Linked DNA regions of Homo sapiens. The protein of the gene in region 1 interacts with the protein of each later gene in a biochemical or structural test. Each region holds a gene or a part of one and is shown in the gene's direction. Other genes may lie near its edges. The genes, in order: HAPLN1 and VCAN.

The links.
Region 2: the proteins of HAPLN1 (region 1) and VCAN form a complex in vitro, tested with the Homo sapiens proteins (one study listed by BioGRID).

What each region holds. Positions count from the first base shown.
Region 1 is NC_000005.10:83,710,815-83,714,646, reverse strand, and holds part of HAPLN1 (hyaluronan and proteoglycan link protein 1 precursor), read left to right. Parts: intron 1-3,832. UniProt on the Homo sapiens protein: Stabilizes the aggregates of proteoglycan monomers with hyaluronic acid in the extracellular cartilage matrix.
Region 2 is NC_000005.10:83,520,227-83,524,058, forward strand, and holds part of VCAN (versican core protein isoform 1 precursor), read left to right. Parts: coding exon 1-2,083; intron 2,084-3,832. UniProt on the Homo sapiens protein: May play a role in intercellular signaling and in connecting cells with the extracellular matrix. May take part in the regulation of cell motility, growth and differentiation. Binds hyaluronic acid.

The sequences.
Region 1 (3,832 bases):
CAGCCATCATGTTGAAAATACGGGTCAAAGCCAACATCTTTTAAAAATATTTTCTCAGGTATGTAAGTACAGTAAAATTGGTTTCAGAGACATTTCAGTGTTGATGCTGATCATAGCTTCTGGAAAACTATGAAAAAAAAGAAAACAGTGAAAATCTGCTTTGGCTTTATAAAAGTGACATGAATCAGAGTCATTTGTTTAAATATCTTCTCAGTTTATGTTTAATTAGCATAATCATAGCCATATTTTATTAAGTATTTCATTAATTTATGTAGTTTTTTTTATTATACCCCATTAGATTATGCTACCATCGTTTGGTGCTCTTGTAAGCTATTGTTCTGGTCTTACAACATAAAGATGTGCTCACAGCCTATTAAATTTCTAGGACTGATGACCCTGATTTAGAGAGGTGATTTCCTTTCGTGTCTTTCCAGTAGCCTAGAGGAGAGGGGTCATTAGCCTGCATTATTCAGCTGGCTTGGAGATACGAATGCCTGACATCCTGTTGCCGCTGTTGGTGTCCAGCACAGTGCAGAACATGGGGCTTCGGGGGTGTCCTGACTTTCTATCCCAAGTGCCTATATTTCAGATGTCTGAATACCTCCAAACCCAAACCGTTCCCCAGCTCTGTTTTTGTTTCCTTATGTCTCTTCTTACCCAGCAATGTTGTTAAATTTATAAACTCTTTTAAGATGTAAATGATAATCACTACAGTATAAAATTAATCATGTAAATAAAATTAATTGTTAATCTCAGTAAATCTCTAAGGAAAGCAAGACTGGAGGTGGAAAACCCATTCAGAGGTCATCAAAACAGCGTAGGCATGACTGAATGGGATGCATTGACTGGATGTGGACGAGAAGTCTGAGATAGTGTGACTGTTTTAAGGATGGATGATTACCTGAGGAGGGATGCAATTGACTAAGATTAGGAATATAGGAAGAATAGAAGTTTCTGGGAGAAAATGATTAGTCTAATTTAGGAAGAAGTGCCAACAGGACAGCCAAAAACTCATAGGAGTTGAATGCACATTTCTTAAGTACATGGGAGAAGTCATGGCTGGAAATGGAGATTTGGAAGACTCTGGCATTAAAATGGTAGTTGAAAATCATCTGGAAGAGAGAAGGGATCGATCATCCCAGGGATATACTAAGGGAGAAGCAGTTAACCAAGAACTGAAACCCAGGGAAGAATTAGTAAGAATGAGTTTTGACATGATTAATGCATGAATTTAACTTTTTATTTTATTAACTATAAATATCCACTCAGTTGGATAACAGCAATGTTTATTAATCCTTACATCTCACAGTCCTAGTCAGTCCTCTGCATATAGAAGGTGCCAGACATGTTTGTTGAATTAAAGGAAATTAAAATGGTATTTCCGTGCCTTGAAGCTCTAATGACAGATTTTCATAATGATAACCCTGAGTAAGACCCCAAAATGTCTAGATTATAGTTGTTTATTACATTTTGTCCAATACCGAACTAACTTTAAATATATGTTGCTGCATTTTGTTGTTTAAAAATCAGTAATCAATGTGTGGTGTAGATGGTAATTCACCAGAGTACTTGATTAACCATAGCCCATGTTGTTTAGCTTACCATATAAATGAGTTTGCCACAGAATGCAGACTAATTCAAGTCTATTTATAATTCGTTTTCTAATTCCTTGATTCTGAAGGCTTCTAAATCTTAGGTCAGATTTGTAGTCCATAATCCTGGATTTCTCTGGACTTCTCAGCAACTTCCTTTTTTTTTTTTTGTCCAGGTTCTCCTCCCTCCCCTTATAGGACTGCTTGATAAAATACAAAAAAAAAATTCAATCATTCAATAACTTTAAGTATTACCCCAATATTTCATGGGACATATTTATACCAAAAAAAATTCTTGTTTTTCTAAAGTTCAATTTTAACTGGATATTCTGTATTTTTTTAACTAAACCTGACAACCCTATCCCCTACTTAAAGTTACTGTAACTAGAATATGCCAACAAAATTTTTTCATGAAATTTCTGAACACTCTCCTTCTACAGGCCAATGAAAAAAGTCACAGATTTTACTAGCGAGATAAATATATTAAAAAGATGATCTAAATAAAATTTTTGATCTAAAATATACTGATCAAGATGCAAACTTACAGAGCATTTATAACTATGACATTATATACACTATGTGCTAATAATTATCCTGAGAATGCCATCAATGTATATTCATGATCATGTTTTTTATTCTAGCTAAAATATTTTAAAATAATGTACATATTAGAAAATTAAACTTTTTATGTGCTCCATTTTCAAGTCAGCAATAACGATAAAACAAAATAATCATTTTTAAATTAAGGACCATACATTCAGAAAAAAATATATATAATATACAACAGGTATAAATTCTAACTGCAGAATACCTGAAAGGATCTTGACCCTTGTTAATTACATGTTATATTGTGCTTGTGCTGCCACCTTGTGACACTTTGAGGTATTACCCAATGTAAAAGTCCAGCTTGACCATTTGGTCAATGTTAACATGATTCCTCATCCTTACATGATTAATATTTTCACTTTACCTAAATTGCTGTATAATTTAATACAGAGAAAGTAACTTCAAGTATGTAATGCAAATATTTTCTGAGTCTGTCTGCAAATTAGTATATCATTCTTGAGTCAATCACTAAATTATAATTTATTCAGTACTGTCTGAATTTGTTTTATGGATAAATTTAGTTGTGTCTGTATGTGTGTTCAGTTTACTTGACCTTTCAATCTGAATTTCCCATAGCTTCATGAACTTAACATTTCCAGAATTGAGCTCATTATTTTCCTTTGACCAAGCCTAGTTCGTGTCATCTCTCTTTATATATATCAAGACAATAAAATGTGTTAGTCAAACCAGAACACTTTTAAGAGTCAAAGGGGATGGCTTACTAATCATGATAACAAAAAAGGCATAAACAAAGACCATCCCAAGGAAACTGGTCACTTACATATAATTTAAAAATAATTATAGTACCAATCACCCAAACTAGAAAATTTGTTGTTCTCAACTACGGGTCCAGGGCAGTGAACTGGAATCTTTATCTCAGATTTTCTTCATTCCTCCTACCTATTCATTCCCTTTCATCTTCACTTCTTTCTTTCTTGTCCATCATGCTTGCCAGCGTTCTCCATGTCCTTGTTCTGTTGTTTGCAAAGGGATCCAAAAAACAAAATCTTTTTTCATGATGAATCTAACTGCCCCCGTCCTCCACACTTGCTCCAATTTTCTGGGAACTGCTAAGAAAAGTAAATATCACCCTGCAGAATGGGACAACTTTAGAACTTTATGGTATTTGATGTCAGCTGTATCTTTCATGCTTTATGGCAGTTCTACCATATTTCTTAAAAGTCCATTGTTTCTTGAGCCCTGTAGCAGATGTGCAAGCCTCTCTAATTCACATGGAAAATAGAAGCCACCCTCTCACTGTCTTGCCTAAAACTAGCCTCTGGTCTGTACCCCCAATGCATTATCTCTTTTTTCCTTTTTGTAGAATAATATTTTTTTAAATCTCCTTTACCTCGAAGAGCCCAGTGTGGATGTTGCCCCCGAGCTCTGGATCTCATTTCCTCCAGTTTTCTTGGATAAATCTCTATTTATTAGATCTATTCTCTCTTGTATTATCAACCTCTCCCACTCTGGTTATTTTTCTTTTTTTTTCTTTTTTGAGACGGAATCTCTCTCTGTCGCCCAGGCTGGAGTGCCATGGCGTGATCACAGCTCATTGAAACCTCTGCCTCGTGGGCTCGAGCAGTTTTCCTGTCTCACCCTCCAGAGTAGCTGGGACTACAGGCGCCTGCCAC
Region 2 (3,832 bases), 190 kb from region 1:
TCTACTACACCTTTTCCATCACAGCATCGTACAGAAATAGAATTGTTTCCTTATTCTGGTGATAAAATATTAGTAGAGGGAATTTCCACAGTTATTTATCCTTCTCTACAAACAGAAATGACACATAGAAGAGAAAGAACAGAAACACTAATACCAGAGATGAGAACAGATACTTATACAGATGAAATACAAGAAGAGATCACTAAAAGTCCATTTATGGGAAAAACAGAAGAAGAAGTCTTCTCTGGGATGAAACTCTCTACATCTCTCTCAGAGCCAATTCATGTTACAGAGTCTTCTGTGGAAATGACCAAGTCTTTTGATTTCCCAACATTGATAACAAAGTTAAGTGCAGAGCCAACAGAAGTAAGAGATATGGAGGAAGACTTTACAGCAACTCCAGGTACTACAAAATATGATGAAAATATTACAACAGTGCTTTTGGCCCATGGTACTTTAAGTGTTGAAGCAGCCACTGTATCAAAATGGTCATGGGATGAAGATAATACAACATCCAAGCCTTTAGAGTCTACAGAACCTTCAGCCTCTTCAAAATTGCCCCCTGCCTTACTCACAACTGTGGGGATGAATGGAAAGGATAAAGACATCCCAAGTTTCACTGAAGATGGAGCAGATGAATTTACTCTTATTCCAGATAGTACTCAAAAGCAGTTAGAGGAGGTTACTGATGAAGACATAGCAGCCCATGGAAAATTCACAATTAGATTTCAGCCAACTACATCAACTGGTATTGCAGAAAAGTCAACTTTGAGAGATTCTACAACTGAAGAAAAAGTTCCACCTATCACAAGCACTGAAGGCCAAGTTTATGCAACCATGGAAGGAAGTGCTTTGGGTGAAGTAGAAGATGTGGACCTCTCTAAGCCAGTATCTACTGTTCCCCAATTTGCACACACTTCAGAGGTGGAAGGATTAGCATTTGTTAGTTATAGTAGCACCCAAGAGCCTACTACTTATGTAGACTCTTCCCATACCATTCCTCTTTCTGTAATTCCCAAGACAGACTGGGGAGTGTTAGTACCTTCTGTTCCATCAGAAGATGAAGTTCTAGGTGAACCCTCTCAAGACATACTTGTCATTGATCAGACTCGCCTTGAAGCGACTATTTCTCCAGAAACTATGAGAACAACAAAAATCACAGAGGGAACAACTCAGGAAGAATTCCCTTGGAAAGAACAGACTGCAGAGAAACCAGTTCCTGCTCTCAGTTCTACAGCTTGGACTCCCAAGGAGGCAGTAACACCACTGGATGAACAAGAGGGCGATGGATCAGCATATACAGTCTCTGAAGATGAATTGTTGACAGGTTCTGAGAGGGTCCCAGTTTTAGAAACAACTCCAGTTGGAAAAATTGATCACAGTGTGTCTTATCCACCAGGTGCTGTAACTGAGCACAAAGTGAAAACAGATGAAGTGGTAACACTAACACCACGCATTGGGCCAAAAGTATCTTTAAGTCCAGGGCCTGAACAAAAATATGAAACAGAAGGTAGTAGTACAACAGGATTTACATCATCTTTGAGTCCTTTTAGTACCCACATTACCCAGCTTATGGAAGAAACCACTACTGAGAAAACATCCCTAGAGGATATTGATTTAGGCTCAGGATTATTTGAAAAGCCCAAAGCCACAGAACTCATAGAATTTTCAACAATCAAAGTCACAGTTCCAAGTGATATTACCACTGCCTTCAGTTCAGTAGACAGACTTCACACAACTTCAGCATTCAAGCCATCTTCCGCGATCACTAAGAAACCACCTCTCATCGACAGGGAACCTGGTGAAGAAACAACCAGTGACATGGTAATCATTGGAGAATCAACATCTCATGTTCCTCCCACTACCCTTGAAGATATTGTAGCCAAGGAAACAGAAACCGATATTGATAGAGAGTATTTCACGACTTCAAGTCCTCCTGCTACACAGCCAACAAGACCACCCACTGTGGAAGACAAAGAGGCCTTTGGACCTCAGGCGCTTTCTACGCCACAGCCCCCAGCAAGCACAAAATTTCACCCTGACATTAATGTTTATATTATTGAGGTCAGAGAAAATAAGACAGGTAAGTCTTTGCTTTCTAGACTAGCATTGAAGGCAATCCTCATTTTATCTTGAAAGTTACTTTTGGGGAAAAAAAGTCAACATACCAAATGCTGCTATTAGAAGATAACTGGAGTGTGAAAAATAAATGTTTTAGCTTCATATATTTGTACAAGAATTGGAAGAATATGTTAAACAATGTGGAAGAATGTTAGATACAATTTTATGTTAAAAGTCATAAGAAGCCCTGCTTTGTCATCTAATATAACCAAATCATCACTGTTACATCACTTCAAAACATGCAGAACAAAGTGTTTTAATTTCAGTGTCTTTTCATACATTACTACTCAAGTGTAGCACTAGACTGTGTTAACATTCCATTGGTCTTTAACTATTAACCTTCAGTACTTACAATGTGGACGGCTAAAATCGTTTTGCATATCCCTAAGGTTGACAGAAAGATATTTAAAGGTTTGCTTTGGTTTTTCTCTTCCAGGATTTTACAGGTTTATTATATGACTTGTGTGGTGGGTAATAGGTCTCTAATGTAAGTGTTATTTTAATGTAAATGCAACATATTCTTATGCTATTGTTTTGGGGTATTTTACTGTGGTTTTATCTATTTAGAGCAAGTACAACCTAGCTTAGTTGTAGGGAGTATTACAGTTTATTGTATTAAATATAATTTCAGAAGGTGGCTATATATTCATTATCCTTGCTTCCTAAAAACCAGGCTGTAGTGTTGTTCATTTTATGATTTAATTGTTTTACCGCTAGGAATATTTGTGATGCCTTCTATTCCACTCAAATATTTTAGCTCTCTGACAGAACTCTTAAAAGCTGTTTGTTTACATTGATTAATACTTGGAGTTGTCATGATCAAATACGATTTATTGCTGTCTAAAGGTGAGCCCACACCATCTTTTACATTTGATAAGCTGAGTTGAGAATATATAGCAAATGCAGTTCAATAAATCAATTCAGGTTTGTCTCTTTCTAGTTTAGAAATTACGATCATGGATTTTAGTTAATTTGCTATATTTTCATTTTCATATAAGAATTAAATGAATGAGTATTCGTTGTTTTCTTGACCTGGCTCTGAGAAGACAGGATAGAAGATTTTTTTTTTTTTTTTTAAGCAGGGTTCTCTCTTACTGTTGGAATATTCCCTTTCGAGTATCATTTTTCTGAAGACTGATGCTATCCTCATTAGAGTGCTCAGGAGTGCACCTATTGGAAACAAACAAGTAGCGTTATTGTCAAGTATGTTTGCATGTAGTGCTGTTGGTGGACACTTCATGGCTTCTATAGGTTTCTACTCTCCAGAATTTTCTGTGTGAAAGCTTTTGCTTGTCAGTGAATAGTAGAGAAGAGAACACACCCACAGAGTATTAAAATTAACCTCCACTTCCCAATGCAGTTTAAAAAGGACAGGATTTGATCATGATTTTCTTGCTAATGATATTGTTTCTTGGAAATCATAACATATTTCCTCTTTTCTACATCCTTTTCCATCTCTCGGAACTGGTGTAGGAAAAAGAAAATGAATTGCCAGTAAGTCGGAATGAGGATTGCGTTAGGCTGGAAAAGAGACAGGAATATAACGGTGAAAGAAAAACAAAAAAGAGGTAAAAGGAAGCAAAAAGTAAATGACTACCAACACTTAGTTTCATAATTTAAAAAAATGCTTGAATGGATATGCAGATTGTTTTTCAATTGATACTACTCTGTTAGTGTAGCTAATAAGTTGAGTTGAATAATATAAAACCCA